3 separate regions of the Homo sapiens genome follow, and regions 1 and 2 are each linked to region 3. The links come from fine-mapping of genetic effects on gene expression. A gene starts in region 3. Each other region holds a variant in brackets. All regions are shown on one strand. Distances are between the middles of the regions.

Region 1 (4,241 bases), 230 kb before region 3:
ATAGATGGATGGATGAATGAATGAATTCTAAGTGTGGGGTTATTCCTTGTGCAATATTGATATTGTACTTCATAATATTATACTTCCAAAATTATTAGAGTAAAAGGAAATGATTCAAAAAGCAAGGAAAGGTTCAGTGTGCTGAAAAATACAGTAAGCCCAATTCCTTTCTCACCCACCCCACTCTCAGCCACGGAAAGAGGACTGATACTACAGCATCAGAGACCATCCAAGACAATACAGTTGTCCCTCAGTATCCTCAGGGGATTGGTTCCAGAACACCCTGTGGAAACCAAAATCTGCAGATGCTCAAGTCTCTAATATAAAATGGTATAGTATTTGCATAGAACCTATGCACATCTTCCCATATACTTTAAATCCTCTCTAGATTACTTATACCTAATACAAGGTAAATGCTATCTAAATAGTTGTTATACTGTATTGTTTGGAGAATAATAAGAAGGAAAAATGTCTACACATGTTTAGTACAGATGCAACCATCCTTTTTTAAATTTGTTTTCAATATTTTTGATCCACAGTTGGTTGAATCCACAGATGTGAAACTTATGGATATAGAGAGTTTTATGTTTTTTGAGAGAGAGATGGGGTCTCACTATCAAAAGCCTGGGGTTGCCCAGGCTGCTCTTGAACTGCTGGGCTCAAGCAATTCTTCCACCTCGCAATCCCAAAGTGCTGGAATTACAGACGTGTGCCACTGCACCTGGTCCAACTGTGTTTTAAATTATTCTTCCAGGGTAATATAGAAATTTGGATAAAATTCTTGAATTTGAACAAAGTAGACACCAGTTTGCACAATGCAGGACATCAATCCATCCATGCCCTTTGTCTCCAGATATCTGGTGTGGATGTGCATTCATGTCAACACAACTTTTTAAATTGCATTTTTTCCTCCTTCTCACTCATGTGTCTTCAGAGTAAACTGAAGAATTATTTCAGTGGAGCCATAAACCTCTCGGTCTCCCAAGACATACATATGGACTCCATGTCAATTTTCTCTCCCACACTGCACCTGAACTATTTCAAACTATCTTCCCAGTTGACCAAACCAGAAACCTCAGAGTCGCCCACTACTCTGACCTCTCTCTAACCCCCAACCCGTTAGTCTTTCTCTCATAAATCTCTCTGGTTCTTCCAGCCCACAGCCTGTCCACTCTCATCCAGGTCTCCACCACATCTCCCCTGGGTTGTAGGAGAAGCTCTTAGCTGCCTCTTGGCCTGGGCTCTCTCCTTTAAATCCATCCTATACCTAGAAACCAGAGGGATTTTTCCAAAACAGAAATTTGACCTCCCTGGTCCCCTGGCAACCCATCAATGGCTTCATGCTGTCTTTAAATTAAATCTGAACCCCATGTGAGGCTCTGCACAATTCGGCCTCTGCTTGTTCTTCCAGCCTCATCTCACCACTCCCTGCTTCTCACCCGAGGCCTAGCAGCAGCCTCCATTTCTCTGGCTCCTTGTTTTCTGTCACTTTCAATCATTAGACCTCCTCTTCTAGTTCCTGGAACTCAATTGCTCACTCCATCTCAATCCTTTTTTTACCTAAGCACGATTCTTTCACTCCACAGGTTTTGCTGAAGTATCCTACCATATTCTGCAAGAGAGTATCTCAACATCCTCCTAGCTTAACACTTAACAACATAGTATTATGTTAGCTTGATCAACTCACTCTCCTCCCCTTGTCTGAAAGATCAAAAAAGGCAGCCCCAGGCCAATCGTGTTTGTGTTCCTAGCACCTAGGCCAATTCCTGACTTAAAGTAGGTATTAGAAAAAACTTTTTGAATGCCAGACAAATCCATGAACTGAGGACAACTCTTTGTTTATTCAACATATATTAATGGAGGGCCTGATATGTGTCAGGTATAGTTCTCAGCGTGTGGGATACATCAGTAAAAAACATAAAATGCCTACCCTGGTGGTGCTTACTTTTCAGATGGAGGGAGACATTTATTTACATATTTAACAAATATTTATCCGGCAGAGAATCATTGCACACACAAAAAAGATGGGGTGGCCTGGCCAGACATGTACATGACAGATCAGTTCTAAAATATTTTCCTTGTTTTTAGTTTCTACTTCAATGAAAAATTTGTCGTCATCTTAGTGTTACCGTCCTGGAAATTCTCAATGTCCTCTTTGCCTGCTCAATGTTTCTCTGTAACAGTGTTCATCATCTAATATAAAGAGCAACACAAACACATAGTTTGTGCTCAATCAAAGCTTGTGGAATACAGAAACAAACAAGAAACTCCAAGAGCTCATTCAGTAAACTTACAAACAAGTAAGAAGATGAGCTTATGATCAGCCTGCTCAAAGCAAAAGAAAAGGGAAGGAAACAATTTTTCTAAGAGCCCTTCAGAAAAGGGAGAAAAGCTTTGCAAAACTCAGAGAACCCAGGAGCAGTAACTGATCTTTATGATCCAGTACAGAAGCCTGAGTAACCGCAGGCTGTCTCAGGTTTTAATACAAGGTTATTTACATAGTT[A/G]CCTAATTATTATGTCTCAATAGAGGGAAGGAAAAAAAGCAAGTGTTTTTCTACTCCCTATTTGCCTTAAAGATCTAAGGGTAATAAATTGTTAGTTTTATTCTTAATTGGTACATGCTTCTTCCAATTTCTTTTCTTTAAAAAAATCAATACGTGGTTTGCGAGACCTTTAATGGAGAGTAAAGAACTGTGACTAGACTTCTTCCTTATTATTGAGATAATCTGTCAGCATTTATCTTTTAAAGGGGCCTCAGGTAAGGCAGACATGATTAAGTTTTTGCAGTAGTAAATGCTGGGCCATTTCTAGAGTTAAAATGATATGAAAAATATAACTGCATCAGGCTATGCCTGATAAAAGACAGTGTCTCTTTTGCAAAAATGTGGGCTGTGGGTCTGGTCTGCTGAGGCAGGGCTCCCAACATCTTGGAAATGTTGTGCCCAACCACTGCCCACTGCCCTGGCCGAGCTCCTGCCCCCACTGAGCTTCGGGAAGTGACTGCGGCTGTTCCCAGCGAGCCTGACCAGAGGCAGAGGCCACTGGTAACCTTAACCCCACGTGGGCAGGCCCTCGTCAGAGCCTCTCCCCAACCCTAAAATTAACCAGTAAGTTTTTGGAAGGGGAGGTGGACAGAGAAGTGCAGGGCCCTGTTTGCTCTTTGGAGCCCAAAGGAAACAGGAGCCTGGGAGCTGACACCCTGGGCCTGAAAAATTGTAATTGTTAGACAAGCCCAGGCATGTGAACAAGAGCTTCCCTACCCCAATCTGCAAGGCAGACACCCTGAGAGTGTTAGAGTTGGTATGGGCAGGGTCCTTCACACTCTGAAGTATGTGGTTACCCAGCAGGCTGGTGGGCAGAGCATGGAAAAGTCCGAATCAACCATAATCAAGTAAATGGCTAAGGCCGAGTTCAGGTAAGGCCCTGCCTACAAATCCAACTCACATTACCTGTGCACCTCATTGTGCCTGTGCCAGACAATGTGCCTCAATTTAACCTTTGCAAAACTTGTCTGATATGGACATTTGTATTCTCGTTTGATAGATAAGGGAGTAAGGGCTCAGAGAATTTAATTAACCTTCCCAAGGCCACACAGCTAAATGGCAGGACTAAGATTCACTATCAGTCTGTTGTACTTCTCAAGTTATCTTTGCTCTACCAAACATCCCAAGCAAAGAAGTTAACATGATGTAATGGTGAAGAGCATGGGCTCTATAGCCATAGCGCCTAGGTTTGAATCCTGGCTCTGCTACTTACTAGCTATGTGGCTTTAGGCAAGTTACTTAACTTTTCTGTGCCACAGTTTTCTCATCTGGAAAACAGGGACAACAGTTGTATATTTATCATCGTGTGATTAGGAGAATGTAAATATGTGAATATTTGTCAAGTACTTAGAAGAGTCCCTGGCGTATAATGAATACATATACATGTTTCATGTGTGCTAAATAAATAAAAGAAAGGGATCTTTTCATTCTCACCACACAAGAGTTCATTTTCCAGTCTCTGGACTCAGAAGAAGGTGTTTTGCAGTTTCCTAACATCATGGAGTCCGAAAAGTGCTTTTGCTACAAGGGTCTCACTTTACTGTCACAACAGCTGTCTAAAGAAGAAAGGAAGATTAGACCCATGTAACAGAAGAATACACTGAGACTTGACAACATGAGGACCTTTATAAGGTCATTTAGCAGGTAAATAAAGAGCAAGAAAGATCCAACTCGACCTTTCTGACCCTGAATCCGTGC
Region 2 (4,241 bases), 200 kb before region 3:
TCATGTCATATTGTAGTTGTTGAATACATTTCAAGATATCATTTATACTTATCATTACTTTAATATTATACTCAATTTCTGTCTAACCTGTGTATCATGTTACTGAATGCATTATTAATAAAGAAGCACTTTACATCACTGTATTACCAGTTTGCTTTTTCTTAAATATTTGATAACTTTATTTCAACATAATTCATTTTCTTTATAATCCTGTACATTTTATTGCATGAATTTAAAAACATAATATTTGAAAGGGTCTATAGTTTTCACAAAACTGCCAATAGGGTCCATGAAAACAAAAAAGAAAATCTTTAAGTATCTCTGATATAATATAGGATGTATTCATCTTTTATATGGTATATGATAATAACCCTTCTCTTAAGCCATAGATCTTTAGTAAGAGTCTAGTATGGTACATGCAAGAGATTCATATTCCAGATTGTTTGAAGGAGGACTGGAGGTAGAAATAAAAGAGAAGGAACTATGCCCCATGCATTGGTTAAGCTACCAGATCAGAGATATAAGAACCACACACTTTGGGAGGCCAAGGTGGGAGGATCGCTTGAGGCTCGGAGTTCGAGACCAGCCTGGGCAACGTAGTGAGACCCTGTCTCTACAAAAATAATTTAAACACACACACACACACACACACACACACACACACACACACACACACACACAAAAGAGAGAATGGAATAATGGAATTCTAAAGATAAGAAGTCACTATCAGAGGTGATGATGAGAATGCAAGTCCTCAAGGATCCACACAACTCATTAGGAAGATGTGGACTTTCCACAGGACATGGGATGGCAGTTAAAATCCGCACTGTCTAACTCAAAAGTGGCAGGTTGGCCCCAAACTGACACCTGTGGCTTTAATAATATAAAGACCACCAGTAACCCAAGCACCACCCAGAAATAATTACCATTATTATGCTCATATAGGTCTTCCAGTTATTTTTCTGTATATGCATACATGTATGGTGTTGTATTCATATGAAGAAAAGTTTATTGTATTAACATATATGAATACAATCAATTTTCAAAACTAGACTCAATGAAAGCACACAAATCTTACTTTTTAAACTTTGTCATGCCCAAAATATAATTTTTGTGGTTATATCATGTTTCATCATATGGAGATGCCATCTGCTGTCACTAAATCCTCTAATATTTGACATTTACATTGTGTTTAATATTTCACTTATAAATAATGCTATACAGAAAAATTCTTATACATAATTTTTATTAAACTGATTATTTCCTTAGAATAAACTCCAAGTTATAGAAAAATTAGGTCAAAGTCTACTAACACTTTACCACTCATGAAATTCATTGCCAAATCATTTTTTGTTACAATGTTAATAGCCTCATCGGCAATGTGTAAAAAACTCACTTTGCCATCTTTTTCATCACTGCATATTATCCTTTTTTAAAATATTATTTTTTGTTTTTAATTATAAGGCATGTTTGTAGCTAACTTGGCAAAGTTGTCTGCAATAGTACTTCTCATTGCTGCACGCACCCCTCCTTTGCAATTTGACGTTGCTGCTCCTTCTATCAAGTTGAATGACATGACAGGAAACAGAAACAAGTGTCTCAGCTAGGGTCCTCTAGATCAACCGGCCCCCAGCAAATCCACCAGCTGACTGCAATAGAATTGTGTAACTGTGGGCAAGACCAACAGAAGAAACACCCAGCTGAGCACAGCCCAAATTATTGGCCCTCAGAGTCATGAGTCAATAGAATGGTTGTTATTTTAGCCACTAAGTTTTGGGTTGATTTCTTACATAGCAGTAGATAACTGATATAATGTTCACTTTTGTCATAAAAATGTATATTAAATTTTAGGGAAAAGTAGTAAAATGAATCCAGTATTCCACCATCCAACATAGAAGAGACCACTGCTAACAATTTGATGTATTTTATTCCCATCTCTTTTATGTCAGTATGCATGTACTATATGGATATCAGAACTATAAACTAACCTTGCTTTTAAAGATTGTTACAAAAATTCTACAAGCACACCAGCAAATGTAATTCATTAAAATATTAAAAACAGTTATTTAAAATCACTAATAAAGAGATTATTTAATGCTATTAATGAGAGCTATTTAATGCTATTATTTAATGATACATTACAAATATATGTATCAGGTCAATGAAAGTGCAAT[T/C]ATCTGGATAAATATTAATAAGTAATTGGTAAGTTTGATGTCCATTTTTTAGGAAAAAAAATCATAGAATATAAGGAATAGGAAAATTCAAACCTAATATGACATGATTAAAATGTCTACCTTGAAAGCAATAGTCAATTTTATACCTAATGGCACTATATAAGCGGCATTGCTATTAGAAGTAGGAGCAAGTCAAGAATGTTCCCTACAATATCATCACTAATAATTGCTCTGGAAATTCTAGTTAAAGCAATAAAACAAGAAGAACATTGAAATGTAACTATTAGAAAAAAGAAAATGAATTTATGAACACTTACTCATGACATTACCACACATCTCAAATCCTAAGACAATCAAATAAAAATGTGTTAATTTGAAGATTGAGTATAAGGGCTTGATATAAAATAAATATACATTTTTTCAAAATTGCAATAATAACATATTAGAAAACTAATGGAAATCTATCATCTTTGTAACTTTAAAAATATTTAATACCTCCTATATGTAATTTAAAATATAAATCATCTAGAAATAAGCTAATTACTAAATGTGGAAAAAAAAGAATGAGCTTACATAACTGATGACAAAGAGATTGTCTATTAAATTATGGTGTGTCCATAAGTAATACTACCCAGTCATTAAAAATCGTGTTTTTGAAGAATGTTTAAAAACTTGTCAAAAAGTTGTAATATAGGGTTAGGAAAAGATTCATGATACAAAATACTATATGCAATATCATCTCAAATGTGTGTGTGTCTCTGTCAACATCTGTCTCTGCTTCTAAAAAGAGGTCAATAGAAAGAGACCTGAAGACAAGCTGAGCTGTTGCTCTGGCTCCCTCATCTCAGCCAATGGCTTGTTCCCCAAAGCTGCCCCCAAGACCACAGCCTGGTGCCAACGATGCGTGACATCCTCTATTCTACTTTGGAAGAGAACCAGCCTAACAAGCCTCTACAGTCCCTGTCACAGATGGAGTTCTTTACAGCAGAGATGAGCACCTGGCCTTGGGAAACCAGAGAAACAGGTCAACTGAATGGGTCACCACCATCAGTGTTCTGTAAGCGTGAGAACTCATTCTTCTTCAGCCTTCATTGTGCCTGGAGATCATCATCACCATCACCCCATGGTCATCAACATGCTTGGGCTTCCCAAAAAGAAGCCCAAGGCTATATATCCAAGCAGATTGGACTATTTGCTAAAGATGAGTCTAACTGATTCAACATAGGTATGCTTCCCCTTGCTGAGAAACTGAGGCATCTATGACATAAATAAGGTAGGTGAACAAAGCCCACTGAAAGTCAGATTGACTGGTGTTCAAATCCTGGTTCTACTACTTCCCAGCTCTGGGATTTGGGGCATGTTACTAAATCTCTATGAACCTCACTTTCTACATTGTAGATGTAATTAGTAATAATATGTACCTTACAAGGCTGGTGTGAGAATTAAAGAGGATATAGCATCGCACCACTTATTTCAAGGTAATAAATTTACCTTGGTCTCCAAAAAGGTAAAAAAGTGAACGAGAGCTTGGGCTTCTAATAAAAAGACTGTTGTTGGAGGAAACTCAGACTCACCATGAGTCACTTCAAATGTGCTGAGGCTGTGGAACTGCAGAGGCTATCAGTGCAATGTGAATGGTACAAAGTTGGGTCCCAAACACAGGGCTGGAAGTCCACCAGTATCTCACTGCCCATGATGGGTAGGATTGCCAGGAGTAGCAAATAAGAACACAGGGCAGTTAGATTTTATTTCTAATAGGCAATGAATTATTAAAATGTGGGGTATAAAAGCATGTCCCGAATGCATAAGTATGTATTTTTCTTCTGTTCATTGATACATCCCAGACCCCCAGACTATGCCTGACATGTAGAAGACACTTAATAAATATTTCTCTACCATGAACAAATTTCTGAATATGTAGGCAGGACCCCACGAACGGTATGAAATAAAAGATTTATAATAGGAATTAGCCCTAATATGACTGTTGGAGCTGGTGGAAAAGTGTACAGAAGGCTATAGACTCTGCATCTGGTGGTGGATCTGAAGTTGCTACAGGCTAGCAGGGTT
Region 3 (4,241 bases):
CCAAAGAAACAAGGGGAGTATGATCCATGATCAACAACATGCTAAAGTTAAACAAGAAAATGGTACAAAATAGAAATTATTACCATACATGTCCAGCATGCAGGATTAATATTTTTAATGCAGATTTTTTGTATTTTTCTATATAATCGAGCAGGCAATAAAACTGATGAGATTTGGGCGCCGAGCGTCCTAACTGAGGCCTGTGTCTCAGGGCTGAGAGCCAGTGTTCTCCGAACTCTGACAGACAGGTCCGTCTGTCCTTCCTTCTTTCGCTCAGCCTCGCCTCTCGCCTGCCGGGACGCCAGAGTCCCTCTCCTTTCCTCGTTGCTCTCTTCCTGGCGCGGACTACTCTCCGGGCAGCAAAGCAGCTGTCCCGGCTTAACGCGCAAAGTTCAGAAAGCCAGGAGTCTCCAGATGGCCTTGGTGACTTCTCGGGACTATGCCTCGCCGCCCTTCAGCCTGGAGAGAAGTTACTCCGGGACCTCCCACCCTCTCGTCTCTCTCTCCGGCTCTGCTCGAGTCTAGGAGGCGGCGCTGGCGTGCGCTACTCTCGCCTTAGCCAAGGTCCCCTGCCCGCCCGCGCACCCGCCCGTCGCCCGCGGCCCGCGCGCCCTTCCTCCCTCTCGCTCAAGTCAAACAGGTCAAGGCTGGGGCCGCGGCAGGGACAGGGTCCGGGGTAGTCTGGGACTAGGGACGTGGGACAGGGAGTCCGGGCCGGGGCAAGGGCGGGGGCCAGGACCGGCCACGACTCACAGAAAGAACTCGGGAGAGGAGGGGCTGTCGCTGGTGGAGCCCGCCTCCCTGAAGCCGGAGTTGGCGAGTTTCTCGCACTTGACCTTGTAGGCGTCTCTCTCGCGGGCCAGCCGGGACACCTCCTGCTTAAGCTGCTCCACCTGCTGAATGAGCTGCGTCTTCTCATTCTCCAGGTGGTGCTTCTGCTGGACGCGTTTATACCTGCAAGACTGGGCGTAGCCCCGGTTCTTCAGGGTCCGCCGCTTCTGCTTCAGGCGGATCACCTCGTCCTTGGTGAAGCCCCGCAGGTGGCGGTTCAGCTCGCGCACGGACATGGACACGAGCTGGTCGTCGGAGAAGCGGTCCTCCACGCTGCCGTTGCCGCCCGCCGCCGTCGCCGAGGCCGTCGCGTGCGGCCCGGGCCCGGGGTGGCTAGTGGGCAGCTGTTGCGCCGGGCTAGCGGCGCTGGACGGCGGCGGCGACGCTTGGTGATGATGGTGATGGTGCGGGTGAGCGTGCGGGCCCAGCTCGTCGTGGGCCACGCCGGCGCCCGGGTACGCGTGGTGCGGGTGAGGGTGGTGGTGATGGTGGTGGTGGTGAGCGCCGCGAAAGCTGTCGAAGCTTTGCAGCGGCTGTGGCACTGGGTGCGAGCCGATGAGCGCTTCCACCGCGTCCTCGGGCGTCAGGTTGAGCGCCTCGGGGTTCATCTGCTGGTAGTTGCTCGCCATCCAGTACAGATCCTCGAGGTGTGTCTTCTGTTCGGTCGGGCTGAAGCTGGGCGACGAGGGCACGGAGCTACACGGAGTGCTGAGCGGTGTGGAGGACACCGAGCCGGCTGGCTGCAGGCGTGTGCAGGGCCTGCCCGGACGCTCCGCGCGCCCCAGTGGCTCCTTCTTCACGTCGAACTTGAGCAGGTCGAAGTCGTTGACATACTCCATGGCCAGCGGGCTGGTGGGCAGCTCTGGCCCCATGCTCAGCTCCGCGGCCATCGCTGAAGCGAGGCGCAGCCGCCGCTGCCGCCCGGGAAACTTTGCGGCCGGCCGGAGCGCGCCGAGCCAAGCGCGGGGGGGAAGAGCGGAGAAGAGCTGGGGAGGCGGGGAGCGAGGGCGCAGCGGGCCGGGGCCGCCGGCCAAGCCTTTGTCTGGGGACGCGGCGGCGCGCCGGAGAGTCCCGAGGCTGCCTGCACCGCCCCAGAGCTCTGGGCTGTGCCCGCGCAGGGACCGGGCCGGGTAGAGTCGGGCGGGGTGGAGAGGCAAGCGGAGCGCGCGGTGGGGCTGAGGGGAGGCGTGGGGCGAGTGCCCGTTGCTCGCTCTCTAGCTCTCTTGCTCTTACGCTCTCTCGCTCGCAGCCGCTCGCAGCTCGGCGGTGCAGCTGTGCTGGATCCGGCGGCGCCGCAGCCTTTTATCGCCTCCTGATGTCACTGGGGTGCGGGGGCCCGGGCGGCCCGGTGCGCGGGCCAATAGCTGCACGGCCTCCGCGGCCCAGCGGCGCAGGGCGGGGCGCGCCTGACAGCTCCCCCGCCCCCCGCGTCAGCTGACTGGCGGCCCGAGCGGCCCCGGAGCGGCGGAGGCCTGGCGGAGCGCTGGAGCGGAGTGGGACGGCCAGCCTGGGCCCACCCCCGTACCCTGCAGGTCCCGGCCCACGCACGCTCGCCTGGAGTGCGCGCCCCACCTCTAGGCCAAATCACCGCTTTCCCCTCCTCGCGCACTCTCCTCCCTCAGTTCCCTTTGCACCCCACCCCCATCCCGTGTCACCCCCAAGGAGGCTCAGAATGAGCGCCGGGACAACGCCTCCTGGGCCCTTTGTTCCCAAGCGGCCCCCGCCCAGTGGGCGACGCTCTGTGTGTCCTCGCGGCTTCTGGCCGTGTGTGTCGTGCGTTCCTGTTTCTGGAGATCTGCGCGTATTTGTATGTTGGGGAGGGCGGGCTCGAGGCTCCGAGAGTTGTGTTCAGACCCAACTCTTAACCTCAGGGGACCTTTCTCAGGCCAAGCGAGGGCCCCTCCTGGCGGGTGCAGTCGCAGAGCCCTGAGGTTCGACTCCACTGGCCCCGCCGCTCCCCGCGTTCACCCCACCGCACAATGTTCACAGTGAAGGCGACGGGAAAAGCAGCAGCCCAAAGGCTCTGAATTCCTCTTCCCCGCCACACGCACGGAATCCTGAGCCCCCGGAGCCTCGGGGCCGAGGCCGGCCCGGGACGGTGCTCCGAGTAGCTCTCCACTGCTGGGGAGCCGGCCCTGTTTTTGTTTGAACGTTTTGTAACGATTAAGCAGATCCCGGCGTCAGCCCGCCGCGGAGAGGCTCAAACAGGCATAAAGTGCGACCCCAAGTGGCCACTGTGCGCAAAGGCGCCGCGACCGCCCGGCCCACGGCCGGAAGGCTTGGACGGCGCCTCGTACCCAGCCAGGTCTCCCCTACCTGGCCCAACCCAAGCCAGCCCAGAACGCATACTATGTGTGCACCAGAGCCCAGGACAGGTTCCCCTCGAGCGATGTACAGGTCCTCGGGTCCCGTCTTCGTACTCAGCCGCGAGCCTCGAGCCGCGAGCTCCGCTCTGGTCGCCCCGTTGAAATTCCGTGCCCCAGCGTTCGGGGGTGCCCGTCGGCTGCTCCCTGGGCCGGAAGGTCCTGGGCGGAGGAAGGCCGGTAGCCAAAAGTGGAAGCGCCACAGTGAAGCGGCCCAGGGCCACCGGGTGAGAAACCTCCCCGGAGGGCAGACGGGGAGACCGAAGCACACCGCACTAGGCATCCAGACTGGGCTTGGGAGCCGCGCACCCTCCCTACCCAGATCCAGGATGGCTAGAATTAACGGGTTCTTTCTGAGACCTCGGCTCAGGCGCCGAAACCGGATAGATCGCGAATTCGCTGGACCCGGAGACCCGACCCGCCTCCCGCGTCACCTTCTTCTTTCTAGCTTTGGGCGCGCGCAGCGAAAGGCAGGAGAGGCGCGCACTGGGTGAGTGAGTCCCGGCCGCTGTCTGCGCTGGACCAGCCCGACTGACCTCGCGCGTAGGGGTCGCGTGAGCCACACCGGTGCAGACGCGCCTAGATTATTTTTAAATGTTAGAAGGTAAAATATTTGCCTCCAATTAATCTGAAAACTCTCTATTCTCTTGCGCCCTCGGAGAGGCTGGGGTACGGCGTGGTATTGGGCCGCCTATTTTTAATAAAATGAGTGTATTTTAACTAAAACTTAACTCAATCTTGTGGGGTGGCAAATTAAATGCTGGAAGAGCGCGTCTACAACCCTCTTCGAGAAGCGTGCTCTCCGCAGAAATGAGTCGGCCGCCTGGAGAGAGAGCCTGGGCGGTGCCGCTGCGCAGCCCCTGCCAGTAGCTGGGGGTTGGGGACTCGCACCTTGTAAATGTCCTCGTCTTGTTTGAACGCAGTGAGAGCACACTCGTTTCCAGATCACTCGGGACCGGGTGTCTCGGATCTGTGCAGACTATGTATGGCTCCGGCCTCAGGCGGCCAGGGCGGGACAAGCACGCCTGACTCTCTTGGTCCCGACTG

Direction of the effects. Positions count from the first base shown, and alleles are read on the strand shown. Sizes are in standard deviations (SD) of each study's normalised expression. Not every link is listed here.
As copies of A replace G in region 1, the expression in whole blood of the gene that starts at base 2,107 in region 3 goes down (small effect, 0.12 SD a copy in GTEx).

What was found. PIP is the estimated chance that this variant, and not a neighbour inherited with it, causes the effect. A credible set is the group of variants that fine-mapping cannot tell apart.
Region 1: its variant is the best candidate, but not a certain one, in a credible set for the expression of MAFB in whole blood (GTEx, PIP 0.59).
Region 2: its variant is the best candidate, but not a certain one, in a credible set for the expression of MAFB in monocytes (TOPMed, PIP 0.51).

Annotation. Positions count from the first base shown.
Region 1 is chr20:40,460,343-40,464,583 of GRCh38, forward strand. It overlaps LOC105372618 (a long non-coding RNA gene), which reads right to left. Exons shown (of 3, transcript XR_936718.3): 2 at 3,978-4,099. Among named protein-coding and RNA genes, the nearest start is that of MAFB, 230 kb to the right of the region's middle. The variant A/G (reference allele first, on the strand shown) is at 2,505.
Region 2 is chr20:40,484,814-40,489,054 of GRCh38, forward strand. No RefSeq gene overlaps it. Among named protein-coding and RNA genes, the nearest start is that of MAFB, 200 kb to the right of the region's middle. The variant T/C (reference allele first, on the strand shown) is at 2,175.
Region 3 is chr20:40,687,130-40,691,370 of GRCh38, forward strand. MAFB (MAF bZIP transcription factor B) reads right to left here and starts at 2,107. Exons shown (of 1, transcript NM_005461.5): 1 at 1-2,107. The coding sequence starts at 1,721. The coding sequence ends at 750. RefSeq lists silencers at 1,970-2,039, 2,060-2,369 and enhancers at 2,320-3,297, 3,298-4,241.